Linked DNA regions of Homo sapiens: all the other regions are linked to region 2. The links come from fine-mapping of genetic effects on gene expression. A gene starts in region 2. Each other region holds a variant in brackets. All regions are shown on one strand. Distances are from middle to middle.

Region 1 (11,172 bases), 160 kb before region 2:
ATAAAACATTTCAATGACCATGAAATGTGACAGCTTATAGAGACTGTATAGATAATACTTGAACCAACACAGTTTTGGTCCCCCAAACACAAAGCACCTAGGCAGCCCTGTGGACTCCTTAGTGCCACAGACTCTGAAAAATTATATCAGATTTTCTGTAAGGTATATTATTTATTGTTAGTTACATGTGGTCAATGGTGACATACTTTCAATAATTAAAAATCGAATAATACTGAAATAACCACAGCAGCTTTCAGTATAATTTGCTTAAGTTGTTCTAGAAAACACTGCTAATTTTTTGTTTCTGCAGAGTCAAGTATAGAAGTGAGCAGATTGGTAAATTTATAAACATCATGGAAAGAATTATAGAGAGGAACTGGAGCCACTCGAATGCCATTTGGATTCCGCTTGTCACACTGTGGGGAAAAAATAAAGCCACAATAATGTTAGCATTATTCACACGTTGAAAATCTACATTCCAGATAAACTTATGTAAAGCACTTTCATAATGATTTCCCTAAAAATTAATATATATGCAAAATTTTTTTACTTTAAAACATGGTGTTTTTCTGTTTTATGAAACTTTTCTCTTGATAATAATTTAAGAAATAAGAATGGATTGGTGCATAAATAGCCAAGATAGATTCCTGAAATCTATTCAGCAACTATCTTCCTTAAGCATTTAATAGACCATAAATACATTTTGTTTTTTTTTTCCCGTGGGGACCCCATGGAAGGACTGGAATTCTTGGGTGAATTTAAGTGAATGAAAACCTCATTAGGGTCTGGAGAGTTTTAGTAAATTATCCTTGAACTTAATTCTCTAATCTTTGATCTCACAAATAAGAAGTGGGCTACATTGTAGGTCCTGAAGTAGCACCAGATAATTTGACATGCCTAGAGATCACTATGGTTAACTTTAGAAAACACCTGCTATAGGCTAGACAATATAGTATATAGTTTATGTGTGCTGTCCCATTTCAATCCAATCACAACTCTTGGAGGTAATTTATTTTATACCCCAAATACGGATGAAAATTTCAAGCCAATAGATCCTAATGAACTTTCCAAAGAGGACAGAGTTTGACGACAGCAGAGTTTGATTTAGAAACTTGAATTTCTGACTTGTGTCTCCAGCATCTGGGAGTAACCTCTCCTACAGGTAAACATGAGCCAAGCAATGCCTTAATTACATAATCATTGGAAGTAGATACATTATCTTTTTTCCCTGAAATTACTCAGTTCACATTTATTAGTTCTCTTCAAGAGACCAAGAAGGTCATATAGGCTGAAGGGTTAAAAAAAAATTATTCCTTGCAATGTTACCACTCCTGAGAAGTGTATATATATCTTTTTTGACAGAAGTGACAAGGTTGAAAATAACTTAATTTGATCAAGCGACTAAATAAGACTTTCTTTTTTAACCCTTCAATAAATTGGTATGATCTTTAATTCCATTCATCCAATAAATGAATTGTAGTACAGACTAGAGAAAACAATGTCCTGACTGAGTATGATGAAATAATAACTTTTTTCTGCCCAAACTGTTATGAAAAGAATGAGTAAGTTACAAAAAACTATTCCTATAAGCCAAGTTTGTGGTATCTTCTCTTTTATCAGAAACGACAGATCTCTATGCCTTTCAGTTAGCACAGTGCTGAGGGCTTAGTTGGCACTTAATTTATCCTTAATTGACTGACTGATGTGAAATAACATGCAACAATGAATAAACCAAAGAGTCCAAATTTTATCCCTAACATGCGGCCCATAGACAAAATCTGGTAGCAAAGCAAGACATACTTACAACCACTCCTCTTTTTTCTAGTTCTTGGAAAACATCTTTGTTTGGAACAGAAAATGTTATTGTTAGCTGGCACCCCCGCTCCTCTACATGAGACGGAGTAATTATGTTCACAACTGGTTTCTTGGTTGCTGCTTTATCTTTGCCATAGTTATGCTTGATCAGGTATTCCAGATAGCCAGTTAGCAAAACAGATTTTTTCCGCAATGCCTTCATTGTCGCTTGCTTAAAGATCTGTGGAATGAGAAACAATCAGATTAAAGTGTCTTATTGATTTACAAAGAAGCAAAAATTAAGAGTAAATCATGCATAAAAAGGAAATGCCCATATTTGATCTTTCCAATAAATATCTCCCTTTACATAATCTTTTTGTGTAAAATCATGCCCTCCTTTAAATGCTTTGCTATTAAATACTGAAGGTAAAATTTCCATGACAGAAAAATTGTACAAATGTCACTTAAATAAAACTTGCAAAGGAAGAAAATGTAAGTTAATATCATGTACCTGTGGCAGGCCAGGTTTCACTAATGCAGGCCTCCATCACAACTGTTTCAGTACTGACCGAGTGGTTACATTAAATATTAAAAACTAAAAAAGTCAGTGCCCTTATACAAAGGCTGGGATGAACAAAAGCCTATCAAGAGTTTTGCCTAGGCTTTCCCTGGGCCTTAAAGCATGACAGAATAATGAAGGAATTCTTAACAGGACCCATTCAGGATTAAACAAGTTTTACTGTGGTTGTGAAGAAACTCTCCAGGCCTCTACAAACAAGTTTATTGAAGGTCTAAAGGAACTCCTCAAACTTCAGTGATTTAGCAGAAGACAAGATAAGGGTAATCACTCCAGCACCTGGACCCATTTAGATTAAGTAAATTTACTGAGGCTCCAGAGGAAGGTCTTCAGGACTCAGACCTTAGTTGTAGATTAAAAGAAGTTAATCACTTATGTCTTCAGATGAATGCACACTTACACCTGTAAAACTTTGTAATTTTGAGTTGGTCTGGTGATAATTTCCAGGCCTTCTCCCTGTAACCAGTTACAGAAATAAAAACTCTCTTCCTCCCCTGTTCATCTGCATCTTGTTATTGGGCCATGAGAAATAGCAGCCCAACCCTCAATTTGGTCCGGGAACATACCTTCAAAATTATTTTAAATTAAGTTAGTATAATCAAGTAAAACATACCTTAATAAATGGATTTAAATATCATACAATGTAAGCTTTTCCCCAAAACCACTTTTTGAAATCATAATCAAGAAGACTTTTCCAACTTTGATGTAAAGTTTGTTTATCCTCAAAAAAGTGCAATATGATCTAAACATGTGCAAATGTGTAAAGCAGTGTTACTGGTGATATTTATAACTGCTTTACTGACTCCCAAATCTCTTCCAGTTTAACAATAAGAAAACAAGCAGTTAAATAATAATGCTAAGTTTCCTCAGAGAGGAAAGCAAATAATATTAGATAATGCATTTATTTTTACTGAAGCATTTGGGCTTGGTTTCTCTCATTTCCCCCCTTCTAAACTCTAGCACTGGTGTGAAAATACTGCCATTTGTGGGCTGAGATGTCTTATATTAAGATGAGTGACAAGGGCACACAATAACTGGTGTTGGAATATTAGGGGTCAGAACAGATGTGCTTTTCTGGCTTATCTCTTAAGGTCAAGTAGAGTGTAAAAATATATCCTATGTATAAGAACTAAATGAACTGCAAACAGAGCGTGATGCACTGGCCTGCCACTTAATGTTCCTTTTCTGTGTCATGAGCAAAGATATCAAGAGCAAAGATAGGGTCATTTGGTGATATTGAGACTTTATCAAGTCTATGAAAACAGTTATTCCTGTATGTACACGTGGCATGTGTAGGCAGGCACTCTAATAAAACTCAAACCATTCAGCCATAGATTTCCTGGAACTATACTGTATAGAGGCTATGGATTGGCTGAAGGAGAGGCTGGGAACTGTACTGAAGGTAAATGATATCTAAGCAAGAGAGGAAAAACAGGACAGAATGGTGCCTGTCTCTCTCTTCAACCACAACTCCCAGACAATGTCTGAAGTCTACAGAGACAGCTCAAGTAGAGGCTGATATCTTGGCTTCATAAGCTCCCGAGAGAGATCTGCAGTACAAATAATAGTGCTCCAAGATTCAGATGACCCAGGTTACACAGAACTTGGTAGGAGGCATCTCCTTCATTTTCTTGGGCAAAGCAAATGTAGGTAGACTTGGCATAATGAAGACTCAAGGGAACACTGCCAAGTTTTGGGTCAAGGGACAAGAATCAAAATTCTCCCAGAGGAGCAGGGACAGGCAAGGCACGGGCCACAGCTGGTTTGGCTGTGAAGTTTGGAATAAAAAGACTATGTGAGGAATCTTTCCAAGATTCTCTCTGGAGCTTAATAATATTCTAAGAAATTCTAAATAATAAATAATTCTAGGAAATTTTGTGGTTATGCTATGGGTGCCCTAATATGTACATGGGGGCAATCGATATGTGAAGTATCACATTTAATGATAGTTCATTTGTGTGCATAGGTTAGTAAAACTTGGAGGAATATTACTTGCATTTAGTTTTTAAAGGGGCGTAGGGAATGTTGCTCTTGAAGCTTTCTCTTGATAACTAGAAACCAATTTTTTTGGTATGACAAATAGCTTCCATCTTAATATACTGTGGAATGTTAACACTCTTTAAATCATAAAATAACTTTTAAATATAAAACTTACTTTCTCCATTACAACCACAATAAGGGCAACTGCATTCTGAGGCACTTTTAAATTCATCTCACAGAGGGTAAAAGTCTATTCTGAGCTTCACATAAAAATATTGAGAGAGAATAATAGGGAAGTAACATAAATATTCTATTTTCTTTTTTGCTTCTCATAAATGTTATGCTTTCAATATTGAGAAAATAATTTTTTTAAATTAGAAAAAATGAAAACTGTGGTTTGAAAAATATTCAGCTTAGAAGATAATACTTTGCAGAGTTTCAACTACTTGTATTTTTTTTCTTACTGACAAAATGAACACAAAGCTTGAAAAGCTAGATAAGTTTAAACAGGAAAAATAAGTTTGGTGTGATGTTTTCAATTGTCATATTTTTCTCTTAAATTCTTAAAACTGTCTCTCTAGGAAATTTGAAAGGAAACGTATAGTACATTTCTTTGTTGAGTCTTCTGACTCGCCATGTATTTTAATTGAATGCTCTAACTTTGTATTTTGAAGCCATTTATTTCATTATGAATTCAGAATACTGAAAGGGACTAAATATTGTCTACCTATCGCTACACATAAATATGAACCCTCAAAATATAATATACGTATTGTTTAAATTTAAGTATTTTGGAAAGTGAGGAGACTTCCAAAATAATCTTGTCCAAACATCTTACTTTAAAAAATAAGGCAAATACATCCAAAGGGAGTTGTTGCTTGTGTAAGGTCACACTTCGTGTCCATTGAGGGAGAGAGTACTTGCCACCAGGTTCCTGGCCTCAGGCTTCATCCCTTGATCCACAATATTTTA[A/G]GAACTATTGTATAAATGATTCAGATAAAAAAATATAAACAAAAGGACAGTTTGAAACTGATTACAATGTGCTATTTTTTATATCAATCAACCATATACACATGTATTTATTAAAAAAAGCCATATTAATATCTTTTTAAAAAGTCATTGCATTAAAAATCTAAGGTCTTATTTATATGTGATTGATTCTTAAGTATAGAATCTCTCCTCCAGTTCGTATTTGACTGTGTTGAATATTTCTTAAAAGTAGAGACAACAAAGAGGCAGTTTGATTCATGCATTTACTTCTTTCGTTTATTGAAACTTCAACCACCTATCTCCTAAAATGGAATAAACTGGTTTAAAAAGATAAGGTGGCTGAGTGCAGTGGTTCACGTCTGTCATCCCAACTGCTTAGGAGTATAAAAAGTAAAGTAGAGGTTCCTCTTCAAAGACTTTCCTTCCCGTCTAATTAGGAATAAATAGTAACTTCTCTTAGAAGCAAAATTTATTCAAAGACCTGTGCTAACATTCTTAAATATCTGCTAGCTGTAATAAATAAATCAATATACTTTATGTTTTTAGCTCCCACAATTTAGCCTAAATATTTGCCCTGGCATGCTTATACTGGTCCAAGCAGCATTAGGTCACAGCCTGTTCCTCTTCCTTATTTAAAAGTGTTTTTACCTTTCTTAGCATTCCACAAGTTACTTCCTCCTTCCTTTGTTACCCTCTACCTTTACGTCTTTTAAAAAGTTCTAAGTTACTAGCCAATCGGGACAAATACAGAATGGGAGGTCCCATTCCAGCCATTGGAACTGGACACAGCAGTAGGGTGGACACGTCAGGTTATAAATGACCCTGTCTCCTTTGTTCGGTGTACTCTCATGGCAAAACTGCTGGCGAGTGTATCCTCTCTGCAGGAAGTAAAAATGGCCTTACTAAATAAATTAAATTTGCGTTCAAGTGCTATTTCTTTATAGCACTGAAAAACAAACATTTCAAACAGGAGACTGAGGCAGGAGAATCGCTTGAGGCCAGGAGTTCCAGATTAACGTGGACAACATAGCCAGACCTCATCTCTAAAAAAATTTAAAAATAAGCTGAGCACAGTGGCATGCCCTGTAGTCTTAGCTACTCAGGAGGACCACTTGCAGCCAGTAGTTCAAGATCAGCCTGGGCAACATGGCAAAATCCTGTCTCTATAAAAAAATACAAAAATTAGTCGGGCATGGTGGTGCACTCTTGTAGTCCCAGCTGCTGTGGAGGCTGAGGTGGGAAGATCAACTGAGTCCAGGAGGCAGAGGTTGCAGTGAGCTGAGATCCCATCACTGCACTCTAGGAGTGACAGAAGGGGACCCTGTCTCAAAAATAAAGAAATAAAATAAATAAATAATAATAATCAGCCAAGTGTGGTGGTGCAGTCCTGCAGTCCCAGTTACCTGGAAGGTGGGGGCAGGAGGATCACTTGAACCCCAGGAGTTTGAGGCCATGCTAAGCCATGATCGTACTATTGCATTCCAGTCTGAACAACAGAGCAAGACCTCATCTCTAAATATAAATAAATAAAACTTAAAGGAAGGTAAGTATTAATAGAAGCATAGTTAATTCACTGATGTTTACTCACATGAGAAACCCATAAATGTCTAGAAAATAAGACATTTTAACAGAGAAAGGGAAGCAATTCAATGCATTAGTTTGTAATTCAAAAATTTTGCAATTTACAGTAGGAAAGAATTTTGAAAAAACACTTTTACCAACATAAGGCTTGATTAACTAAAGATAATTTTGGTTAGAACATAGTCTCAGCAGTGAAATGAGCAGAAAGAGGCTCAAGGGAAATATGTAAGTGATTAGAAGATCCAGAGAAATGCATATCATTCTTCTTGTGGCTTTTAGGGTTTTAAGTTTAGATATTGACTGGGTAACATAGTAAGACTTTATCTGTACAAAAAACTACAAAAATTAGCCTGGTGTAGCGGTGCACACCTGTAGTCCCAGCTACTCAGGAGGCTGAGGTTTAAGTTTAGATATTAAAAAGAAAAAATAAATCAGTTCTCAGATTATAACTGAAAATAAAAACTTTGTCTAGGTGACTCTAATACAGTGTGGTAGGAAAACAGTGGCTGGAAGAATAGGAATGTGCTTCCTTTCCCACAAGAGAAGGGTGAATACTACTAGAAAAGCCAGTCCACTGCAGAAAGTATGCCAAAGTGAAGGCGTCTAAAAGGAAATTTCCAGGTACGTCTGAGAAGTTATTTGCAAAGATATGGGCACCAGAGGAAATTACTTTAGGTACAAGCTCTTCCTAAGGTATGTCCTGGTGCTTCTGATATTGTCACACATCTCGCTGATACAAACTTGCAAGGAATGCAGAAACTTTATTTTGTTTTAAAATGTTTAAACAAAATATTTATCTGAATGGATACTATAAAAACAACTCAAATATCATTATCTGATTTACTAAGCAGATTTTTACTCAAAAAACTGTCAAAAATATATATCACTGGCTGAAAAATCTCGTTACTGTGTCTATTTTCCAAGTTAAAGAAAAATTCTGCCATGAAGTGAAAACAACACAAGCTCCATCTAGTGGTTAAACTGAGTAGGTGCGCTTTAAATTGAGACAGAATGAAATGAGGTGATGATCACTATCCAGTGGTGAAATTTAATAAAAACAGAGGAACTTGATGCTGCCATCCAGTGGCCAGAATGAGAAACTGCTGTAAGTGTTCACAGAATTATGCAATTTTAGATTAGAAGGAATTTTGAATCTTCATCCTGTCACTCATTTGATGCTGAAATCCTCTATAAGTTTTTGCCAAAATATCATAAACTACATGATTTTAGAAGGAGACATGAAAAAATTTCAAATCCTTGTTTGAATAGTTCTATGTAAAACTTCTATTAGAAATATATATGCACATTTACTTAAAATATATTTTACTTAAATATAGGTATACAAAATATACAATTACTTTATATATTTACATTATTTATGTAAATATTTATACATTTACATTATATATGAATTTTATACTATATAACCTATATATTTTTACTTGGCCACATTTAGTCTAACACTAAATAATAGTATCTAAGGAATCACAATTTCATTTTCTTGTTATGTATATTTATCATTTCAGGGTGAGACTAAATTTACCTAAATAAAAATATAAATTAATTTAAAGGAAAATATTGAGTCAGTGATAGTGGAGACTATAAATGGACATAATGGCATAGAAGTCCCAATTTAAAAAAATCATAAAACCACCCTACCTTATGAGACAACCTTATTTAATCTTTGGTTTACTCTGATTATTCTTTTTTCCTTCAAGTAAGTCTTTCCTAGCTTTGTCACATGGTACTTGGTCAGTTCATTCACCTACAATGAACTAGAAAAAGTACAGTCCCTAGTAATCACATCAGGCACACAATATTTTCTCAATAAATTTATGTTGAATGAGCGAATTTATGAAGAACTAAATATTGCATGCTTATTTGGTATAAAGAGAGGCCAAGAGAAGGTTAAATAACTTATTCATGTTTAAACAGATTCTAAGTGGAGTAAAAAACGTATCTCCCCAAAAGAGTTCCATTTAATATTTACTATGTGCCAACAATGTGCCAAGCATTGTGCTGGGGGCTGGTGACATGAATGAAGGGAGACCCTCACCACATCATCACTGTCCTAAAGGGGAATGCTGCCTTCTGTCCCTTGTTCATGCACAGTGCACATGTATCATCTTGCTGTGTAGCAGAGAAAGTACTATGAATTGTCACAAACAGATCAAGAAAAAACGCAAAGATGTGGGAAGGTTGAAACACACATCACTTACCTCTAAACTAGCATGCAAGGAACAGACCAACAAAATGGGAGGATTTGAAATTCGGAATCCACAGACCCCAGGGATTAACTGCAGTTCTGAGAAATTAATATCATGTCATTATCATAGAAGGTAACTTTAAAAGTGTCCATAAAGATACTAGAGTACTGGAGAGTAAAAGAGCAAGACTTAAACTTTTCTTCCTAAGTAGGATTTCTGAGATATTTAAGATAAGCTCCATGGAACTAAAATATCGACGTTATTTCCCGTTTACCAGCAGTTCCCACCTCCCTTGTCCCCAACTTCTTAGCAGAACACCAGAAATCTTAGACCCAAGGTAAAAATGACCTCTTCTGGAAGTTTTTCTGGATCTCATTCTCTGCCTTCCTATTCCCAAGCCAGGATTCCTTATTCTGCTCAACATTTGCTATTCTATTATGAAACCATGTCAATGAGAGAGAGCATCAGCTTTTAGTGGCATGTAATTGTAATGTCTCCCAAAGGCAGAAATATGAATGAAATGACCTATGAAGCTGACTTTTAGCTCTAGGATTGTTAGGTCAAGTGGTTTCTCTTACAGAACACACACAGACACACACACACACACACACACACACACACAATAGAGGGAGCTTTAAAAAAAAGATCTGCCTAAGTATATAAAAAAGGTAAATTAATAACAGATGCTCTACTAATTAGAATTAAGCAGATTGAACTGTAGCAAGTTAAATTCAATAGGGTTAAGATAGCTAGTCAGAGATAAGTTAACACTATGACTGACTAAAAGAATGTTAAAACTTGATGACTTTTTTATAGTTATCAAATCCAGGATTAAGCAAACTATGGTGATATGGTTTGGCTCTGAGTCCCCACCCAAATCTCATCTTGAATTGTAATCCCCATATGTCGAGGGTGGGACCTGATGGGAGGTGAATGGATCATGGGGGCAGTTTCCTGCATGCCGTTCTCATGATAGTGAAGGAGTTCTCACAAGATCTGATGGTTTTAAAAACAGCAGTTTTTTTTGTTTTGTTTTTTTTTTTTGTTTTTGTTTTTGAGATGGAGTCTCGCTCTGTTGCCCAGGCTGGAATGCAGTGGCGCGATCTTGGCTCACTGAAACCTCCGCCTCACGGGTTCACGCCATTCTCCTGCCTCAGCTTTCCGAGTAGCTGGGACTACGGGTGCCTGTCACCACGCCCAGCTAATTTTTTTGTATTTTTAGTAGAGATGGGGTTTCACAGTGTTAGCCAGGGTGGTCTCGATCTCCTGACCTCGTGATCCGCCCGCCTTGGCCTCCCAAAGTGCTGGGATTACAGGCGTGAGCCACCACGCCCGGCCAAAAACAGCAGTTTTTATGCACTCTCTCTCTTTCTCTCTCTCTCTCACCTCCCATCACCTCATATGTGCCTTGCTTTCCCTTTGCCTTCTGACATGATTGTAAGTTTCCTGAGACTTCCCCAGCCATGTGAAACTGTGAGTCAATTAAAATTCTTTCCTTTTCAAATTACTGAGTCTCAGGTGGTATCTTTATAGCAGTGTGAAAACAGACTAATATATGGCCATATGGCCTGTGGGCCAAATTTGACCCACTAGTTTTGTTTTTGTTTTTGAGACAGAGTATCACTCTGTTACCCAGGCCTGAGTGCAGTGGCTCAATCATGGCTCACTGCAGCCTTGACCTCCCCGGGCTCAGGTGATCTTCCCGCCTCAGGCTCCCAAGTAGCTGGGACTACAGATGCATACCACCACTCCTGGCTAATTTCTGTAGTTTTTATAGAGACAAGGTCTCACTATGTCACCCAGGCTGGTCTCAAACTCCTGTGATCAATTGATCCATCTGCCTTGCCTCCCAAAGTGCTGGGATTACAGGCGTGAGTCTTCGTGCCAGGCCCTGCTTTTTAAAATACAGTTTTATGAAAACATAGCCACAATCTTTCACTTATGTATCACCTATGGCTGCTTTACCACCACAATGACGGAATTGAGTATTTGCCACAGAGACTGTATAGCCTAGAAAGCTTAAAATATTTCCTATCTGGCCTT
Region 2 (11,172 bases):
AGTGAAAACCATATTCATGGAAAAGGTAACTTTACTTAAAATGTTAGTATTTTGTTCATATGAATACCAAAGAGATTCATCCACCTGCTGCTGTTAGTAATTATAAATTTCTTCCTTTCAACACCATATTTATTATCTTAGAACAAACAGGATTGTGTGATGTTTCTTGAAACCACATTGTATTCTGTTTAATCATCATGCAACATTTCCCACTTTTTGGAAAAGGATAAATGACAATGGAGATTTAATCACATACGTTTTAAACTTCACCCAAGCTTGTTTGTTTATATTTCTCCTCTCCTAAGTTTGGTTTTTTGAACAAAATGATATTACAGGAAATAAAATTTCTTTGGGCTAGTTAGATTTACATATAGTTTTGCTGATTTCATTTAATTTATACATTTATTTACTCTTTCAACAAGTATTTATTTGGTACCTATTATGTGACTCCCAGTAATGGCAGGACAGCAGTGTATGAGAGAGTGCATAAGTGCCAACCCTTGTACAATTTATTTGTAAATGAAGAATAGAAAAACAATGTAGTTTCAGACTTAAGAGCTATGAGGAAACAGCAGAGTAATGGGACAGAGTCACTGGAGTGTGGAAGAGCTACCTTAAAGGGTCATGTTCATCCTTCTGAGAAAGTGATAGATGAGAATGTCTACATCATGTGAAGACCTGGACCTGGAGGAACCTGGCAACAAGTGCAAAGTTCCTGGGGTGGAAATGGGCTTGGCTTGTTCAACTAAATGCACTAGGGAGGGAAAAAGAGGGAAGGAGGAATGACAAACTGTGATATGCAAAAAACAAAGGCAGAAGGTAGTCATAAAGAAATTTGGGGCCAGGCGCAGTGGCTCACGCCTGTAATCCCAGCACTTTGGGAGGCAGAGGCAGGCGGATCACGAGGTCAGGAGATCAAGACCGTCCTGGCTAACACGGTGAAGCCCCGTCTCTACTAAAAATACAAAAAAAAAATTAGCCGTGCGAGGTGGCGGGCGCCTGTAGTCCCAGCTACTCGGGAAGCTGAGGCAGGAGAATGGCGTGAACCCCGGGGGGTGGAGCCTGCAGTGAGCCGAGGTTGCACCACTGCACTCCAGCCTGGGCGACAGCGAGACTCCATCTCAAAAAAAAAAAAAAAAAAAAAAAAAAAGAAATTTGGGAGCCAGAAAGAAAACTGAAATTTTATAAGTTTAATGGGATACCATTGGGGAGTTTTGAGTAGAAAAGTAATGTGATATAAATTTACATTAAATAAAAACCACTTAGCTCTGTAATGAGTTTTAAAAACAGTGAGATACCACCTCATGTCGGTTAGAATGGCGATCATTAAAAAGTCAGGAAACAACAGGTGCTGGAGAGGATGTGGAGAAACAGGAACACTTTTACACTGTTGGTGGGACTGTAAACTAGTTCAACCATTGTGGAAGACAGTGTGGTGATTCCTCAAGGATCTAGAAGCAGAAATACCATTTGACCCAGCAATCCCATTACTGCATATATACCCAAAGGATTATAAATCATGCTGCTATAAAGACACATGCACATGTATGTTTATTGCAGCACTATTCACAATAGCAAACACTTGGAACCAACCCAAATGTCCATCAATGATAGACTGGATTAAGAAAATGTGACACATATACACCATGGAATACTATGCAGCCATAAAAAAGGATGAGTTCATGTCCTTTGCAGCAACATGGATGAAGCTGGAAACCATCATTCTGAGCAAACTATCGCAAGGACAGAAAACCAAACACCACATGTTCTCACTCACAGGTGGGAACTGAACAATGAGAACACTTGGACACAGGGCGGGGAACATCACACACCGGAGCCTGTCGTGGAGTGGGGGGATGGGGGAGGAATAGCAGTAGGAGAAATATGTAATGTAAATGACGAGTTAATGGGTGCAGCAAACTGACATGGCACATATATACATATATAACAAACCTACACGTTGTGCACATGTACCCTAGAACTTAAAGTATAATTAAAAAAAAAAAGTTGAAAAGGGAGACCGATTAAGGATAACACAGTAGTTCAGGAGAGAAACGGTGGTGAATTAAATTTGGTGATGAGGGCAAAGGTAGAGAGAAGAGTGTGGATTTATGATGTAGTTTGGAGAAAAAGTAGATAGGACTGGTGGATAGATTATTTCTAGTGAGGACAGGAAAGGAGCTTTCTTCTAGCTTTGGGATATGGGCAAATATGTGAAATATGATGAAATAAAAATACCTGGGGAAGAAAAATTTTGAGGAGGGAAATTGGAATTCAGTTTAGCAGGCTGGTTGTGGTGGTTCACACCTGTTACCCCAGCACTGGGAGGCCGAGGCAGGGGATTGCTTGAAGCCAGGAGTTTGAGACCAGTCTGGACAACGTAGCAAGATGTCATCTCTACAAAAAAAAAAAAAAAAAAAGAAAAAAGAAAAGAAAAGCCAGGTGTGCTGGCACTGGCATGCACCTGTGGTCCTAGCTACCGAGGAGGATGGGGTAGGAGACCAGCAGTCTGAGGTTGCAGTGAGCTAATTGTGCCACTGCACTCCATCCTGGGCAACAGAGCATGACTGTTTAAAAAAAAATTATATTTAGGATATATTAAGTTTCAAATAAGTATTGAACATGCAGGTAGAAATGTCAAGCTGGTCATTGGATATTTGAGTGTATAACTTAGGGGAATATTGGATCACAAGATATGTTTAATATTTCTCAATTCAGACTGTACTTAATGTCTAGAACTTCTGGGGGCCCAAACTCACACAGAACTAAAGCTCTAGAATTCAATTCAATCTCCATTCTTCTGCCTCCCTTCACCTTTTACCTTAACTAACACACACAGTGTTTGGCAATAAAGAGTTGCATATCTGAGTGTTAGATAATGCCAGTAAAACAGACATTCTTCTTACACTCTCGATTTTCATTCTTGTACTTTTTGGGCTTCTTCTTTTCTCAACTGTCGATGGTCTCCACTGATAAGCCATTCTTTATATTCCTAGACAAAGATACCAAGGTTCACCATTGCATGTTTTTTACTTTGATATCAGTTGTGACTCCTAACTGCTTCAATCCATGGTTCTGTACAAAAGTGTAGGATTTCAACATTGATGGATGGTGCTTTCAATATCTGACCATAAGTATTATTTGTCCTCCACATGAAATTTTCTATTTCTGTGATTTTTCTCATGCCATTTCCTTTGCCTAAAATGTTTTGCTCCCCTTCAACTTGTTTGGATTCTAGCCAACCTTCAAAGACCTAATGCTCCAATGCTTTTTTCAAGAGGCCTGTTAGGATGTCTCAGGCAAAAGTAGCCCGTCTTCCTCTGAACACCAATAACAATTAAGAGCACACTTATGTACTTTACTTACGATAATAATACATTCTGCCAGGTACTATATTTATTTGGACATATGTATGGATAGGAAAGATCAAAAACATTTGCTATGCCTGAAACTTGATTCTAAATGGCTCCCCACACATAGCTTTCTGATGAAGGAAACTGCATTTTGAAGAGAGATCACTGTGTCTCTACCGCTTGGCATTATCAATTGCCTGGTCATAGTTTATTAGACCTCTGTTGGACACTTACCCACTAAAGACAATGTAGTTTCATCAAAGATCTGTGAATTATTTGCTATAAAAGCTCTAACCAAACAGTGATGATGTTTAGCTGAGTACATAATCAAATTCTTTCAGGAATCTGAGCTGTGGGATGTGCTTATTCATTCAGTTAGATACAGGAGCTAGAATTTAAAATAATCATAGATAGAAGCTATGAAATGCTAGGGTCTAGGAGGAATACTGTCATAGAATGACTCATTTTTCAAAGTAAAACAGAACCACTGATTGTTAAAGCATGAAAAGCATGAAGTGATTCCAGCAGCAAGTAAGAGTCACTTAGTTACACAATGGCAAGGGATTGAACAGCTATGTCTCCTGAAAAGGTGACAAGACAAGCCCATCTTGCAAGTCACTGAATCCTTCATGCAACATGCTATGTGCAAGTCTCCAGGGGACCCATCTTCTTGGCTATTCCTAAAATTCCATGAGATGTTTTTCTGCCTTACTATCAGATTAGTCTTACTACAAACATATTACTGATGGTAGCTGGACTGAGTTGCTGTTCTACCCTACTGAACTGAACTCTACCTGGGGGCCTGAATCATGTTTAATTTATCTTTATAGACATCTCATTTAGACAGAGTACCCCTGCCGCCAAAGTGGCAGTTCGAGAGAATAAACAAAATTGGTTGATGAATTATTTGACATAATGACATATTACTAGAAGGGCACCCTCTCTCATTCTGACCATATGAGAAAGACTTAGACAAACATTTCTAATGAAATTCAGAATCAAGAGAGCTTGCCTTATATTTGAGACTTTCTTTGGGAGGTCAGCCCTTTGAGTTGATTGGAGGTGACTTTAAACTCTAAGTGGGGTTACTTAAATAAAGAGATTAGTTTGTTACCAACAGATTCTGAATAAAATTCAACTTTCCTTATTTTAAAAATGATACTCATTAGCGTCATTCTATCTGTATCTTATTTAATGCTTGTAATAATCCTGAGGCATCAGAATCCTTTTCCTCTATATTGAGATGAAAACCTGGCACAGACAGAGTAGAAACCAGTGGACTAAAAGGATAGCAGAGTGCACAGTAGGGTACTTAACCATGCCTGAGATGCTGAGTCCATTGTGCTGGTCTTTGGCAAAGCCCATGAATGGAATGCACAGAGCTCAATTCCTCCTCGAAGCCTTGAACCTCTCACTTTATTTTTCCTTGCCTGTTGCTTCCTGATGTGTGTGTGTACGTGTGTGTATTTCTTCAGCTCATTCCCTTTTTCTTTGGCTTCTTTTTTCAGTCCTACACTTAAGCTGCAAAGGACCACAAGCTACGTATGAATTGATTTACCTTTTTAATCCATCCTTCCCAGTCCAGTTTCAGCCAGGCAAAAGTTAAAGTGGCTGGTTCCGCTCCTGGGCCTGTCACATCTGGGGTACCTTGAGATACCTGATGGGCATAGTCTTCCAAATGACTGCACCCTGCCCTACTCCACCACTTGCACAACTTCGCATGGTCTCAAATATAGTCTTTAGTTCCCAGAATAGCATAGTGCACTCACTCTAAGGATGCAATTTATTCACTCATACTAATTGCTGCTTAATTCTGCATTCACCCCAGCAGCTAAGACAATTAGTGTTCACAAGCCATAATGTTATGCCATGTTTAGTTTGCAAATAAAGTGACATGCTCATATTCTGAAAGGAAGAACTTAAATCCAAACTTTTAAAAACTTCAACTTTTACATATTTTACAAATTTTCAAATGTTACATATTTAGTGTTAATTTTATCAAGACGGGGGACATACATACCATATGGTCTCAGACAAATCACCTAACTGCTCTGTATGTCAATGTTATTTAAAGTTAAATTTTACTTTCTTCAAAGGATTATGGTTAAGCTCAAATGACATTAGGTCCTTTATAAAAAGATAAAAGATAGTTTGTAATATTTTTTTAAATTATCAATACCTTCTGATGGACAGCATCAATGTGCCTTCGATTTAGGTTTGGAAATTGTGCTTTCACAATTTTATTTAGACAGCTACAACTTTAAAGTAAAAAGCTTGTATAATAATTAAAAACTGATTGATTTTAACGAAATCACAGAATTCAGAATCTCCTAGTCACCCACTGATTTAGGGCTAAATAGTTAAATAAATGACTGAGTGTCTGGTAGTTAATCTTTACACAGTTTCACATTCATGCCTGAAATAAGCAAATTGTACATAGGAGTTCAAAGTTTAGAACCTGACTTAAAAATATGTTGAGAAAGCGTGTAGTTTTTCATTAGTAAAGAAAAAAGGAAAAACAATATGCATATTGAGCAAGATTCTTTAAGCATATCATTGAGAAATGGGTAACATTACTCTGCTACGAGTGTATATTTCATATCTAGGATATGAATTACTTGCTGAACACGTTAAGAAAATCAATACATTTGCTTCAGTGTTACTACTAAATAACACCCCACTGGCCTCAAAATAAAAGCAGAAAGGAAAAAAGAAAATCTAGTATATTTTTAAAAAGTGTATCAACTTTCTTTTCTTAGGTTTCATAAAATGAAAGGGGAAGAAACTCTGTTCAAGAGTAGGCATTTTCACTTCTCTAAATAAATATTTAATATGACTACTAGCAGCATAAGACAATTAAAGTTACCAGAAAACAGAGGACTTAAAATCTGTTTAAGAATATCTTTCCCTCGTCTGGAGTTTGACCTAATCTTACCGCTTAAACTCAAATAAGAACAGGACTAACTTTGGTTTGTCAAATGTAACCATATTCAGTGCACTATGTTCATCAGTTCTTTTCTATTACATTAGTAAAGATCTTTTCATTTAACCCATTTCTAAAGGTGGGGCCTTTAGGAAGGTCATACCATTTTTATTTACAAAAAGAATATATATAAAAAAAGAAGAGAGTAGCAGAAAAAAACCTCTAAAACACTATGACAAGGATTCTAGCTGACAGAAGTTTCATTTGGAAAAAACATGGAGTAAACATTAGGGTAGAGAGTTTTTATCAGCGCCTCAAGCTTACCAGCTAGGATCCCAATGGAGTGTTTGGCTCCCAGAATCTCTCCAAGAACCTCTCAAGAATTCCTTGAAAATGTACAGGCCAGATCTTAGGGTGAGAAATTCAAAGAACTGCTCAGACTCCACCCAGTGGAGAATTTATAAATATTTTACTTTACTTCCTCTCCCCTAACCAATCGGTAATCTCCAGCCACTGTCAGAAATTTAAGCAACATGTGCTCCTGCCCACCATTTCAAATGCCAGAGCCTCCAGTGAGGGCTTCTTTCCAGAGGCAACTTTGCTCTTTAAACTCAGGTAAACACACACTTGTCCTTTAACTATATAAATCTCTGACCCCTGAACTGATGAGTTGGTCTTAGAGCTAAATTCCAAATTTTGCCTTTCTTCTTCACTTTGAGCTCTGGATTTTTGAGACAATACCCTCCTTCAAATACACTGAGGATTTTCAGTCTGATGGTTGAATCTATGACATTTAATGGGTAAACTTTTTAGTCAAAAGTTTAAAATAGGCTCTCAATTCCAGAATACACTCTATTGCCTAATATGTGAGTTTTCAAAAACTCCTAGGTAATAAATCTGGACAGTTAACAAGACAATGAAGGAAGAAAGATCTGAAGATTCAAGTGGAAACTAGCCTGGCAAACTTCATTAATGCAAATTATTCATTTAAGTCTGTGAATTGTCTTTTGTTCTAGTCTGACTACCTCTTTAGGCTTATTCCTGAGCTTGGGTCTTTTGATGAATATCCTTGTAGTTATAAAAACTAAGAGCAAAGACTTTCGATATTAGGACTAGGGATGAAGAATGTGCTTGAATAATTGAATGACTTATGCACACCTATGCTTTATTTAGTAACCCACAACAAATCAAGTAAAGTGTCATTTAATCATTTCTATCAAGTGTTCATTGTATAACCCTGAGCAATTCACTTAACCCTTGTGGAGGCTCAGTCTCCTATTTATCAAATGAACTTAATAATACCTTCCTCCCAAGATTACTGAAACGATAAAACCATGCAGGTTGAAGGCCATAGATACCATGACACTCAAGTCAAAAGTGACATATTGTCTTTTTTTTAATCTTAAGTAACCAGACAAAAAGTACTACTCTCCAGTTTCCAAGAGAGGGAGATAAAGTGCATGAAATTGCTTTAATACGAGTAATTGACCAGTGAAAATAAAATATATTTCACTTCATTGATCCTATCCTTACAATAATCCTATAAAGTAAGTAGACTACCAATTGATTAACTTAGAATAGTAAAAGTTTGAATCCATTCAGGAAATTTCAGAAGGTGTACTTTTTTTGCATCTATTCTGTGTATGCCTCATGCTGTAAAAACTTTGGAAGATTACCAGGCTCTAATATATGGGGAGCGAACCAGAGGGCGGATCTGTGTCATTTTTGTGTCACTCTTTTAAAGACTGACTATAGATTTAGAGAGCTAGATATGGACATTAAGGTTTTGTTTTCACAAGATCTTGCTTCTTCTAAAATCTTGTAATAATATGATTAAAAATTTCATCAAAATATTATCTTAAAAACTACTGTTTAACTTGTCACCTTTAAAGAACTTGCTTGGAGGTCTAAGCTATACTTCTATTTCTTATGTTTTATAAATTTCTTTCTTTCTTTAAATTTGTTACATTTGAGGAATAAAAATAAAATCCCAAGCCCCTAGATTAACTGAACGGACACGCTCTTGGCCAAGGGGATCCCAGAGTAAACTTGAAAACTAAGTTTTTGGCCATGACAGGATAGGAAGTGGAACACATACCCGCTCCATCACTAACTATGATTAGGCTTTCTGCCCTATGGCTAAAAAGAAACCAGTCATTTCAAAAGATTACACCAATGACATCAACCATCACCTGGTGTTATCCCTCTCTTTTGTGGTTTGGAACAAAAAGAAAATACTGATCATGGAATGTTTCTGGCTAGTCTATGGAGAATGTGCAGTAAAGGTTTTCATGTCCTCTGCTTCACATTGGGCTGAAAACTGCCCCCTCAGATTGTATTAATGCTGTCATTTTTTGAACACGGATCCCATGGAGAAGCATGAAACTCCATTGTGCATGTGCACATTTCTCCTTTCACAAATATTCATGGCTTCCCCTATAGCTTATTGAATATATATATTCAGCTACCCTGCTCAACATAAATTTCTGTTTCCTTTGCTCCTCCCTCAAAATGTCTGTTTCCAGCTTCTGATTAGAGGCTATACTTTTCAGAGGTCAGAATGATCACCCTGCAGGCTGCAATCCTTTATGTGAAATGAAGCTCTCCTTTCCAAATGTATGAACCTGTCATTCTTCAGTTGACACTTTCATTCATTCAAGAAAAGTATTAAGCATATTCTCTGTACCAAGCACAAAGTGAAATGCCAGGGATGTAATGGGGAGCAAAACTTGTATAATAACATAGGCCGCTAAATACAGAAGGGAATTATGAGAGAACGAGTCATGCGGGGAGGGGTGAAAGCAAGACCCGCTACAGGGCCAGCAGTCAAGGTTAAACAGAGAACACTGTGAGATACCATTCCTTCCTTTTGGAAACAGGAAGAAAAAAAGTGTTGCCAGAATAAGCTGTTGTACAATTCCGAGTTGTCTATTAATTTCCAGGTATGGCATCCTGCTTATAAAATGATATGTTTCCGAGAGGAAAAGACTAATTTTATCCTCCTCAGAGCTCTACCTATGTATGGAGCTAAATAAATATCTACTGAATTGGTTAATTTGTTTTTTTTTAATTAAGATCTAGTTTATTTTCTAAAAATTGATTATTGGAAATATGGGAAAGTTTTGTCCTCTCAAAAGGTAATCTTGAACCATGAACTTTATTCTTATTCTTCAGGGCATTTTCGCCATAGTTAGGCCAGTATCTAGCATTTAGTAGACTAAAATGGGTGCTTGCTGGATCATTAACTAAATTAAATTCAGATCAGCAAACTCTTTATGTAAGAATCCAAGGCTGCACTACCAGGCTGATCATAACACTCTAATGCTGGGTGCTCAGTATGTGAAATGAGTAATGAGATTAAAGACAGAGACAAGTTAGGAAAGAACTAATAAAAAAAACTGCAGTCTCAAACTTGGGTAAACAGAAAATTTCACAATACGCTATTTTTCTTAATTAAATAAAAACGCAGAGCTCACATGTGACTTCTTAGGAGGAAAATTTACTCTGAGTCATTATTGGAACTCTCCTTTCTTCTTTACACAGGGTGTTGGGAAGTTCCCAGATGGGAGGGGCAGATTAGCTTCCTTCTCTCTGCCCTCCTGCCTCTCCTTTCCCCTCACCATATCCCTGGGGCCTTGCACACCCAATCACTCTTTCCAAACTTCCCCTTGGGGATAACCAATATAACATAACAAAAACTTTCTCAAATGCCAGTCATGAGATTTGCCTTAAGCAATTTCTGCCAAGGAACCTACAGCATCTTCTCTATATGGGTAGGGGAAAATATAAAAAACAGAGCACACACAAAATTATCTCTCCTCTCTTCTTCCCTCTCCCCTTATCTGTCCTTCCTTCCCCTCTCCTTCCTTTCCTGCTGCCCCCTCCTCTTTCCCTCTTCTTGCCTTCTCTCCTCTTTCTCTAATGCCCTCCTCTTGCCTTCTCTTCCTCTCTCTCTCTCTCTCCTTTTCTTTTTCCCTTTTTCTCTCTTCCCTCCACTGCACTCTCATTTCCTCACCCATACTCTCCTTTCTTCTCCCTCTCCCTCCTACAACAGGGAAGGCAAAGCAAATTAATATGCTAATAAATCACTAGGCTATGTTTAGACAATCTACTTTTTCCTTCCTGTGAGATACATAGTCTGGTTATTAGAAAAATTTCTCAGTAATGGGCGGGGACTTTCCTACCCTCTCTATATGTTGTATTTTCAGTTTTTCAGAGGAAAATGCAAGGGCTCGTTATAAGCAAATGACATTTTGCCAGTTGGTGATTAAAATTTATTTAGAATCTAAAATTCCTATAACCCATTCCCTTTTTCCTAGATCAGAACTTTTCCCTCACTGTTAAACTCACAAAGGTATAGAAGGCAATCTAAATCATGTGCGGTAGCAGAAGAACTTTAGTAGTTTTCTGTTATATGTGTTTGCAGGTCAATTTGCTCAATTGTCTGATTGTTTACATGAGGAATTTCTGAGTTTCCTGTAAAACATGAAAAACCCAAAGTGACTTGAGTCATATTGACATCATTGACCACATAACAACATCATTGATGTCATGATGACTCTGGAAAACGGGAACAGGCATTACAAAATCTCCATTTAAAGACAAAGCTTTCATATACCAGGGTTTCTTTCTATAGTACAAGGTACGATGTACATGCCCTCTTTTACCATAACAACTTACAACAGAAAATTTTTTTTCTTAATATTAAAAATGACTATCAACAGGGATAGTGTAGAGCTGATGTTTGGAGATGTCACTTCAAGATCCTCTTCTGGGATTTGTCCTTTTTCCTATGTTTGTCTGGCAAAGTATTTTCTAGTGTCACTAATAAACGGTGTAAAATTTCCCATTTTGGAAGTGTCCAGTATGGGTCCACCATTTTGCCAGTCGTTTGAA
Region 3 (11,172 bases), 320 kb after region 2:
ATTTGATTGAAAGTCAAAAATTTGCCTTAGTTTTTGTTCTGAAAATGATCTTACAGAATTTTGTTTCACTTTCTAGTAAATGTTTCTTCAGTTTTACTTGTTATTTCCCACAGAATATTATTATCCATTGGAATGTAAAAGAATTCACACTTCAGAAATAAAAAAGTATATTAAAATAAAATTTTAATAACATAAATAAGAACAAAATATAATAGGCCTTTATTGTGGTGTTCACATTTAACAAGATAGAAAACAAAACAAAACAAAAAACTGGCTGACTACACTTTACTTATTTATAATCTGTGGAACATTAGATTAGGAACAGTGCATTTGATAAATAACTCTGAATTGCATTTAAGCATTTTTATTATCTTGGCCAATTATACATGTAAAATATTTTACACTAAGGTTTATAGTAGGTTTAGAAGGAAAAAAAGATACCTAAAAATAAGCCACCAAGCTTCAAAAAGAGATGGCAATCCATGAGTAAAATATTTTACTTTTTCCCTTAATCTAAATGGACTGCTCAATAACTTGGTATTAAAAGTCAGTTCTAAGTTAGGTCTAAGTTCCAACTTTTTCAATTTTATGGTTATCTATAAACCTGGATTTAGTATGTGACTCTTTCCCAAAAGCTATAATTTTGGACTTACTGTAATTAAATTTAAGTTCTTATCTACTAGAAAGGATGGTAAAATATCTTTCAAATACATTTAGGGTCAGGTCTTCAGCAGGCTGTGGGCAAGGGTGGTGAGGGTATCTATGATAAGAGCTCACATTTTCTTTACCTCAGGAGAAATGCTTGCAGGATAATAACTATTCACATTTAGTTCACTGAAGGGAATCGACAACTGTTGGTGTTTTCGAATAACTAGCAAAAGCCAAATTAATTTCAAATTAAATTGATGAGTGTTTGTGGCATATTGAAACCTGGGGCCATGACTGCAATGTTCCTGGGGGTTAATTGTTCTATGATTTCAACCTGCAGTGTTATGTTATCTATCATAGTAGGGAATTAATAGTATTAATTAAATTGGACAGGCAAAAGAAGTGATGACAATAAAACCAAAGAACAAAATACAAAATTTGGAGATAGATAGCTAGATAGTAGATAATATAGATACAGACAATTTAAGCTTCTTTTTATTCTGAAATAAAAGGTAATCTCTAGATTCTCAAATATTAATAGATAAGAGGCTTTTAGATTCTAGTTTTTGAGTGAAGTAAGGAGGAAAAATATAAAGGCAAATTGATTAAAAACAAAGTACCAAGCAAATACATATTCAAAAGGATAAAAATAAAATAATGCATTTAAAGTGAAATAAAGTCAAGTAATAAATCTATGAGTTCATGTGGCACAACATAAATTTTTATCAAAAGACAGGAAGATTCCCAAGAAGATCTCAAACGATGAAATGTTTCTATAAAAAGCTATAGAAACAAGGAGAGTGACATCATCTGGTGCTAACAAATGTGGAACACTTCACTGAGTACTCTGAACATTTTTTGCAGCCTATGATTGTGAAGAAAGAATACTGTCTGAGGAGAAGGAGAGATAAAACTGAGACTCTCAAGGTCTTCTCCAGTCTCCTGAATTTATGATAATGTGAAATATAAAGAAAAAAAATAGCTTGATGGTAATTGATACAATGAACCCCAGATACAATAAGGAATAAAAAGATATAGACAAATAGCAAAGAGGCAAGGACATTTTCGTCTCAAGGCAATCTTAAATTTCTCTATCAGGTAAAGATGGAATGTGTCTAGGTTTAGTTCCTTCTTTTGCTTTTTGGGATGAGATTTTCATAGCTTCTGAATGTCCAACAAATTCAACCCTATATGTTTGATCTTATATCTTAAATTAATTTCCTTGGTATAAACATTGAGAATGTACTCATTGGTCTGTCTTCCTTGGTCAACCTCAATGACTTATGTATAAATTCAGCAAGAATTCAAGAGGGTTCGGAGCCCCCGTAACACAGATCGAGATGAATGACCAGCGCAAATTTTCCTAATTGAATAGAGAGGGGGGGAAATAGTACAGCCACAAATCACGAGGTCAGGATGATATTCACAGCTTCAAATACTACGGCTTCGAAGGGATGAGAATTTTAGTTAGAAAGCTTTCTTCCTCATTTTTATGTCAGCTTCCCTTTGGTATCTTTTCCATTTTTCTGAGACTAAAAATCCCTAGATTTGACCTTTTGTTTATATAATTTAAATTAATTATCTGAATAATCAAAGATTTTTATTTCATTTTCTGGAGCAACAAGAGCTGGGTCTGCTCTCAGGAGGTTTTAAGATCCGTAGGGTCAAAGACTATACTCTCTTTCTCTGTCAAACACAGCAATAATATAGCTATAATAATCAGGTTATATTTTCTCTACTATGTTGAAAATGGAAGATATTGCAGTCTGATAATTCCTCCCAAATGAGACTTGAATATTAAGAGACTCAAAATTCCATGGAATAATAGTAACAGGTTTATATTACACAGTAACCAACTAATCAAACTTTCTTACTTTGGGGCAACAATTTGGATGTATTTACATGTTCAGTTGGAAGTCTATTTTAACTGAAAAGGTAAAATATTTAGGGGTCTGTCCTCTAAAAATACCACATTTAGGATTGGATTTGACTCCATTTTGTTTTTTAGATTAGATTAGATGTACTTCATTAAAGAAAAAAATTTTTAAAAAGTGTTAAGAAAAGTAAAAAATATCTACAGACTCAATGTCACTGAAAAGAAGGGAAATGCATTTTTAATTTAAAAATATATGAATTACATAAAATATTTCTTCTGGACTTTTCAACTCTGGGTCAAATTTGCTACTGCCTATTTGCAAAAAAAATACAAGTATGTTAAGATTATAGTTGGAAAATTTGATATACCAAAAAAATAGAAGGATACATCTCTGGGAGTGGGATACAGTCTTCAGCATTCTGATTTGTTTTAACTTATTTATGTTTTAATGTTCAAATGAGTCAATAGTATTCAGTTAAAGTTGAAAATTACTGAATAAGATTATTTGACCAAAGCCTTACCGTGTCAAAACATGGTCTAAAATACAGCTTCCCCTTACATCCACAATAATAATTAGCCTTGGTCACCAAACCAGAATTGCCTGTCTTGTTTGCAGATAACAATATGATGGCTTTGATAGATGCAATGTATGTAATCAAGAGTGGAAAATTAATGGTAAATTGATGTTCTGATATGAATAGAACAACTTGTTTTCCATATTTGCATGGTGCTTGCCAATGACTATATCTACTGGGCCCAAGTAATACTGGAAATAGCTTTCTGGGGTCAGTAATATCAGCCAAAACAATGAAATAGTAGCTGTGTCAGGAAACAACCTCACCTGACTTCTCTATTAGTTGGGAGAAAATATAAAGTGACCTGCCCTCTCTAACATGATCTTAGACCAATTATCATAGTGCATCTCTTTCAAAAGGCCAAGATATCTTAAACGAATGCCCATCGATAAAAGCTTTTCCCATAAACTCACCCTATTAATTAAATCAAATGTAGCTTTTAAACTGATGAGGCTGTAAAGATAAGTTGTTCCTTAAGGTCAGTATATTTATCAATAAAATAATGTAAGGCAAAACAATGAGTAAGAGTACAGAAACACTTAAGAATCATGCTATCCACATTTAATTGTCACTTTGTGTTCCTTTAAATGGAAGACTAGGGTTGCTGAATAAAATTAAAACAAACCAACCAACAAACAAAAGAACTCAGACATTTGGCTAATATTCAAAGCATAAAATGTGGTTGCAAGTCATGTCTAAAAAACTGTTATGGAAAATGAAGTGTTGTTAAGCTAATATCAAAAGTGCTAGATAAAAAGATGTAACATTGTTTTAGGAAAAAAGATTATAAATTGATATATTTAAAATGTATATTTTGTTTCCAGCATCAACTTAGATAGAGAAAACATTGTGGAGTATAGGGAGAGGCTAAAACATGCATTTCTGTTGCTCCAGAAAACTAACATACATGGACTTTTAGAAGCAGTTTCAAAAATCTAACAGATGTAAAAATAAGTAAAACAACTTATTTTACCTATTTGAACTTTCAGATGTCTTTCCATTCAATGTGTATTTAAGACTGAATTTCTGATATTTATCTACACTAATTCTAAAGAGTCTATAGAAAATTCTGATGCCTATCAAAAAATTGAACAATATTACTGCAGCTTTATGCTATTCCCAATTTGCCTTCAATTTCCAGAAGGATGTAATATAAATGGAGTTAATTTCACTAAGCCCATAAGTAGAGTGTAATTCATTAGGACTGAATTTCAGACAGATAGTTCTACTTATCTCAAAGATGAATAGAAAGTGACTCTGAATTTAATACAAGCAAATAAGTATCTCCCACCTTCCAAAAATATTTTGCATTAATTGCATAAAAGTAAGAGATTAGGGAAAAGTACTGCAAAACTGAAAAGATCAAGGCAAAACTTCTCTAGTTGGAGGCTTCAGATTTTAAATTACATTTTGATACTCATAATATTAGTATTTCTGTAACATAATTTAAGGTCCTCAGAAATATTAACTTTTCATTAAAAAAATTTTTGATGTTACTTCTCATAACCAAAGAACATGTTCTAGTTAATGAATAAAAGTTGAATATTAGCCTTATCAACCAATCCATTTTCGCCCCTGAGCATCATTAAAAGCACTAAAATTTTGAACTCAGTTACTGACACATATGTGGAAAGACAAAACAGGCTTTTGATTAGGCAGCTGTAGAATCATCTTTTGGCTCCACTTCTGACGAGATGGGCAGCCTTGTGTAAGCTTATAATAAATAGTAGTCACATTTTTCTTAACTCAAAAATGAGAGATACCTAATGCTAAATGACGAGTTAATGGGTGCAGCACACCAGCATGGCACATATATACATATGTAACTAACCTGCACATTTTGCACATGTACCCTAAAACTTAAAGTATAATAATAATACAATAAAAAAAGAAAAAAATATTATTCACTCAAAATCTGCTTGTTGAGTGCAGGCATCTTTTGGGGTATCTAATTTTGAATAGAACAGACACAGTGTCTGCTCCCATGGAGCTTACAGTCCAGTGAATATTTCTTATGTTTGTCTCCTATAATGTATTGATGTATATATTCTGAAATTCCCTTGGCTTCAAGGATCATATGTCCTGTACTGAAATTATATACCACATTGTCAGGTTGTTAGTCTCCACAAAAACAATCCAGATTTAGGGTAGCACGCTAAAGGCAGAAAATGGTCTGGCTTACAGAATTTGAGAAGATCCTTTTGACTGTGCTTTCTGAGCCATCGTAGGAATAATGACCAATGCTTTTATTTCAGCTCAACCCAAAAAGATTTATTTAAAAATTCTCTTCTTATTGCTTGTTCTTAACTTCTTGGTGTGATTTCCAAGTTCCTTAATAATTATTTGAAAATAAAAATATTTAGAATATTATCTTTCGCTCTAAACAGCCTTCATTTAGAAGCCCATTTAGCTGTCATGTTTTTGAGTCATTTAGGCTCAAATCAGTAGAACAATATTAGGAATTTTTTTAGTAATTTAATACTAAGTTAATAGTAAGATATATGTTAGTAGCTGTTGAGTGTTCCCTACCTGCTAGACACTATGTTAAGGAGTTTACACGTATCATCTTGTTACCGGAAGGAGGGCACTGAGTGTGAGATGTCCAGGTCCTTCCTGTTTTGAACAAAGAATTGGACAAAATGCACAATCAAAGTAACAAAGAAATGAAACACAGGAACAAAGCAGCAAAAGGGGAATTTATTAAAGTGAGAAAGCACTCTACAGGGTGGGAGTGGGCCTGAACAAGCAGCTCAAAGGCACAGTTGTCACAGCCCTGCCTTAGGGTGTCTTCACCAGTTAGAAACTTCTGTGGCCGGTGCCACCTCTGCTTGGGTTTTCCTTGTGCCCACTGGGCTCGTTCTACCCACTCAGCCAGGAAGGCTGCACTCAGCTTGAGCTACTGGCCCAGATCCCATGCCTGCCAAGGACAAGCGGACAAGCCAGGTGCAGAGCAGCAAAGGGTATGTGAGCGAGTGAGCATGGGGTCTAGCCACCTTGCACAACCAGGCACGCTGGATGCTGCGGCAGGGCGGGCAGCACAGGCACTGACACAGGTGCTGGCTCTGTGCTAGGTTGCAACTGAACCAGACATACCTCAAGCAGCTTCTGCTGCAGGGACCAGCACCTGGACAAGGGGGACGTGATGGTGCCAGATTGTTCAGAGATGTCAGGAACTGCAGAGCCTCAAAAGGGTATTACAGCATGTCACAGCCCTGGCTTAGGGAGCCCCCAG[C/G]TCTGCTTCCAGAAGGTCTGCAGGTCTTCTCTCCTCATCACCCACAGTGTGGCAAGCAGAGAAAGGGAATGTTTTGTGGGGGTGTGTTTCAGCTCATTTCTGTTACTGCTCTTTCAGTCTCATTTCTCCTGTTGTGTTGGGTGGCTGCCTGGTGGCAGCAGAGGACAAGAGAGCTATAGTGTTACTGCATCTGTGGCTCAGGGAATCCCAAGGTCTGCACCCCCTGAAGTATCACCATTCTTCATTCCCACAGTCTGGGAGTGTGTCACTGTCTGAAGCTCCATAAGCCAGCCAGGAATATATTACAGCTTCTTTGGCTCCTGCTGTTTGGTGGATCCCAAGTTCTTGTCCTGCATCCAGGAAGAATGAGGTTACACAGACAACTGGAGGGTGACCAAGGCAGAGAGGAGCTTTATTGAGTGACAGAACAGCTCTCTGAAGACATGAAGTGGGTAGCTCCTATCGACAAGCAGGTCGTCCCAAGGAGCATCTGAAGCTGGCTGAGTCCATGGATTTTATGGGCTCAGAAGGCAGGAAGAGTGTGCTGATTGGTCAATTAGCAGCCATGGGTGGCCCAGGAAAAGGCACCATAAATCCTCACTCTGGGTCACAGACTCCACCTGAAACTGGCAGCCTGGCACCCAGACTTCAGGCAGTCTCTGGCTTGAAGGTGGAGCTTCACTGGGGACTCTCCCTTTCCCACCTAGGAACCTGTCTGCCTCCTGCCATCCTCAACATGCTGTCCACAGTGGCCAGGCTGTCTGTGCTGAGGGACACCTGTTGGCCTGAGCCATGCTGCCCTCAGCCTCCTGGCCTCCCTCCCAAGCTCGTTGGCACCCAAAGTCTGGAGGGGACCAAGGAGGCACGGGGCTGATGTGTCAGTGCCACCCGAAGTGAGCACACACCTGGCCATGTTACAACAGAGCCCAGGCTCAGCCACAACTTCTCTCTGCACCAGAGTGGGCACCAGGAGCAGGGAGAGGCCAGGGAGTGGGAATAGGCACTTTTGAATCTGCAGGGGCAGGGGACTTTCTGGGCCCCTGAGAGCACATGGATGCCTGGGTCCAAAGCCATGGCTGGACAGCTGCATCTGTGCCTGAGAGCACCGAGCTCCTGCCCCGCCAACTTTGTAGGGAGGAGGGCTCCCTCCGGTTCCTGGTTCCCACTGGCTCCATGGAGTACACAGTCTTGGCTGCCCCTCCCTTGCTGCAGCTGGCCATCCCAGTGGTGGCTGCTCCAGATGGCCCCTGCCTCCATCACAGTTACAAAGTTCTCTGGATTTTAGGTACTCATTTTGAGGTTCCTATTGGTTACCTCTTATGTGGATGAAGGATTTGGTCTGTGGCTAACTGAAGGCTGAGGTGAATTGGTGCCCTGTACATATGAAGATATTGTCCCTGCTTGGCCAAGGGCCAGTCCAAGGCACTCTCCATTTCCATCTGAGATGTGGAGGAAGGGGACGTGCTGTAGGGAGAGTAGTCTTTGATCCTTTGTTATTCAGTGTAGGGTTTTTTTTTTTCCTTTTGGTTTAGCTTTAGGAAGTTTGTATTAACTGGCCTTGGGTTCCATTCCTCAAACCCAAGTGTTTTCCTTTTGATCCAATTTTGGGAAGTCAGCACGAATTGGCCTCAGATTCCCTGCCCTGAGACCTTGGTGTTTTTCCTTGATTCAGCATCAATTGGCCTGAAGTTCCCTGCCTCCAGACCCTACTATCCTCCCTCAATCTTACCTAGTTTTCATAACCACCAGATGAAGTAAATATCATTTTTGTTCCCATTTTACATTTGAAGCAAGGAAGGCAAAGGAACATTAAAAAATTACTGAAAATTCCAGTTAGTAATTGAGAATTGGACCCAGGGCATGTGACTATAAATATCATTTTATTTCTCTACATTCTTCTTTGCTGACTGAACTGTCTTCAGTTCTTGATTCTTCATTTTTCCTTTATGTCTACTTATTGCTAAGGATAGTTAGCTTTTAAAATGTATATTTCTTTTTTTAAATTGGTCACTTCTTTTGTCTTGTTACAGTCATCATTTTTTTACAGGTTTTCATTAGCTCGCTACTTATTTTACTATTCTAGGTGGTGAATCACTGTCGAACTTATCTTTCTTTCAAATTGCTGCTAGATTAATAATCCTAAAACCTCACTTTGTGTAGGTACCTTCTATCAGCTTTGACGGACTGTAAACTCCTTACTTGCCTCTCAGTGACTGCACCCATCTTCTCCCAGCTTTATCTCTGTCTTTATCTTCTAGTTTATCTCCATAATGGAATCCTTTACTTTACCAAAATTGTTATGTTCATTTAGTCCTGAATATGTAATTTTACCCCTGAATCTTTCCTTACACATTTCTCCTTTGAGAAATGCCTTCTCCTATCCTATTTGTGTATTCAAACCAAAAAATTCTCCAAAGTCCAGTTCAAGTATGAGTTCTCCTCTTAACGTTTTTCCTTTAAAAATCAGGCCTAATTAGTCATCATTTACTTTTCAAAATTTGTGTAATATTGACTTCCCTTTTGACATTTTATATACAAGCTATTATATAATTAGCATGATTATTTCTTATTCACTTATATGATAGATATTTATTAAACATTAACATCAGCAGAGCCTGTCAATTTTGTAAGATGCTCTAGAGTCCACAAATAATTTTTTGTCCAGTAGGGAAGTTTAAGCTGGATTATACTTAAGTATTAAAAATATATTAGAAAAATACCACATTTCCCTGTAGCTAACAAACCAATTGTTGTAAGATGCATCATTGATTTATATCAGATTTGGGTTGTGCCAAGAATTAACTCATTACTTTGTAGTCAGAACAGGCAGTGATACTTAAGGATATAGTTTCAGGAGCCAAACCTTTGGGCTTCAAAGACTGAGTGTACCATCCTCTAGGATTAGGAACTTTGGGAGGATGTTTAACTTTTCTATACTTAACTTTCTCCCTCTGCAAAATGTGTAATAATGGAACTTACCAAATAAAATTGTTGGGAGAATGAATGCATTAATATATGCAAATCACTCAAAAATAGCTGACATATAAGGACTATATATTAATTATCATTAATTATGATTGCTCTTAAATCATAAAATATCAAAATAACTACCCATATTAGAATTGTTGACATTCAGGTCAAGAATAATCCTATGGGGGAAAATATAGTACAAAAAAGTCTATGTCTAGCTGAATGAATCATTGCAGGTATAAAGATAGTGGCATTTAAAATATACATTGATGGCTAGGTACATTATTGACTTGTATTGTGTTAAAAAGCTCAGAGACATGATAGAATGGAGTATATAGAATTAATCTGACATTTATGGTTTTTTTCCCATTAGAGTATTGTAATCTTATTTAGAGCATAGTCCTTGCTCTAGACTTCTTTTTCAGATTCTAAGTATCAACTAGAAGTATTAAGCCCATAGTAGGTCCTCAATAAAGTTTTAATGAAATGAATTAGATATAATGCTGAAAATTACTAGAAATTTGCACACTTGTAATTATCTCTATACAAGTCAGGTTTTCATCTGCAGGGCAATTAGCATGGTGAATAATGACTTGTGCATTGTACCAAATTTATTAAATGGAAAAAAAAGTTTGTGATTCTACTCAAGCAGATGACTATTCTCTCTTAAAACAGTAGTCTATTAATATGGGAATTTAAATAAACTCAATAATTAATAGTGAAAATTTAGGCCTAAGGGCTAGAACATTTTATTTGTCAGAATATATTACAGAAGAGGTTGAATTAGAAATTTCATTGTCTTTTCACTGGTGGTTTTTCAAATGTAATTTACCAGAAATATAAGTAATGAAAGGAAATGTGGATACACATACACAGCTCTGTAGAATATTTTAACATTATTTCCCACTTTTTACTATTTAGAAATACCCATGATTATTAGGGATGAATGAGTATTTTAAATTATTCAGGACCATATCCTTTGCTAAAAGTTTGACTAGAATTTGTTTCCGAAAGAGCCAAAATTCAAATTAAATATAAACATTCATTTCATTTTATTTAAATTTCTTAATATTAGTTTTAGATAAGCACAAAAGTATCACATAGAAATGCTTTCTGTTTCCCTGGATCTTTTCAGCAAAAGTCTCCAAGTGTTTGAACAAAGCATTACCTCTACGTGAGAAAACTGAAATTGTTTCCTTACTGTCAATTTACTTATAGAAACATCACTTCAGTTATTAACTTAGCATTAAACAGTTTAGGCATGCTGACTTCTCTCAAAACTTGGTTACCACCAATCACAATAAAAATGAATTAAGTTCACTAACCACTTCCTATGATTTCCAGTAGGTAAGGTGAGGTAAACTGAATGATGGCATTTCCTTGCATGTTGGTGACAATCAAATAACTTTGGAAGACAGAATGATCTTTATGAAATTATAATAATAAACATTTTCTGTCCACAAGTGGACCAAAGTAGGTTTTGTTTTAAAAGTTGTTGAGGATTCATTTTAGCCTAAGTTACTTGAAATTTTTCTCCCAGATTTGGCAAAATTTTAGAGATTCGAAACTCTTCATCCTCAATTTCCCTGTAGAATGTGATAAGTAGGAAGTTGCCCAAGAAGATGGAATACTAGTGTTTTAGCATCGTATATTGTAGTAAAATAATTCCATCAAGGTGATCGGTTGGCTCTGTTTCACAAGTTTATATATAAAACAGATTTTTATCATGACAATCTGTATGACCATTTTCACTTTGGAAATTAAATACTTGATATGAATCATTTAAAATGCATATAAAATGACCCATAATAATTCTCATTCTTGATGGTTGAAAATGAAGAAGACTGAATATTATCTTTTTTTTTTTTTTT

What was found. PIP is the estimated chance that this variant, and not a neighbour inherited with it, causes the effect. A credible set is the group of variants that fine-mapping cannot tell apart.
Region 1: its variant is the best candidate, but not a certain one, in a credible set for the expression of KYNU in whole blood (TOPMed, PIP 0.58).
Region 3: its variant is the best candidate, but not a certain one, in a credible set for the expression of KYNU in whole blood (INTERVAL, PIP 0.67).

What each region holds. Positions count from the first base shown.
Region 1 is chr2:143,031,291-143,042,462 of GRCh38, reverse strand. KYNU (kynureninase) reads right to left here. Exons shown (of 14, transcript NM_003937.3): 12 at 9,142-9,227; 13 at 1,805-2,035; 14 at 1-416. The coding sequence ends at 291. Among named protein-coding and RNA genes, the nearest start is that of ARHGAP15, 93 kb to the left of the region's middle. The variant A/G (reference allele first, on the strand shown) is at 5,324.
Region 2 is chr2:142,873,165-142,884,336 of GRCh38, reverse strand. KYNU (kynureninase) reads right to left here and starts at 6,673. Exons shown (of 14, transcript NM_003937.3): 1 at 6,601-6,673. RefSeq lists a silencer at 449-498.
Region 3 is chr2:142,557,986-142,569,157 of GRCh38, reverse strand. No RefSeq gene overlaps it. Among named protein-coding and RNA genes, the nearest start is that of KYNU, 310 kb to the left of the region's middle. The variant C/G (reference allele first, on the strand shown) is at 6,332.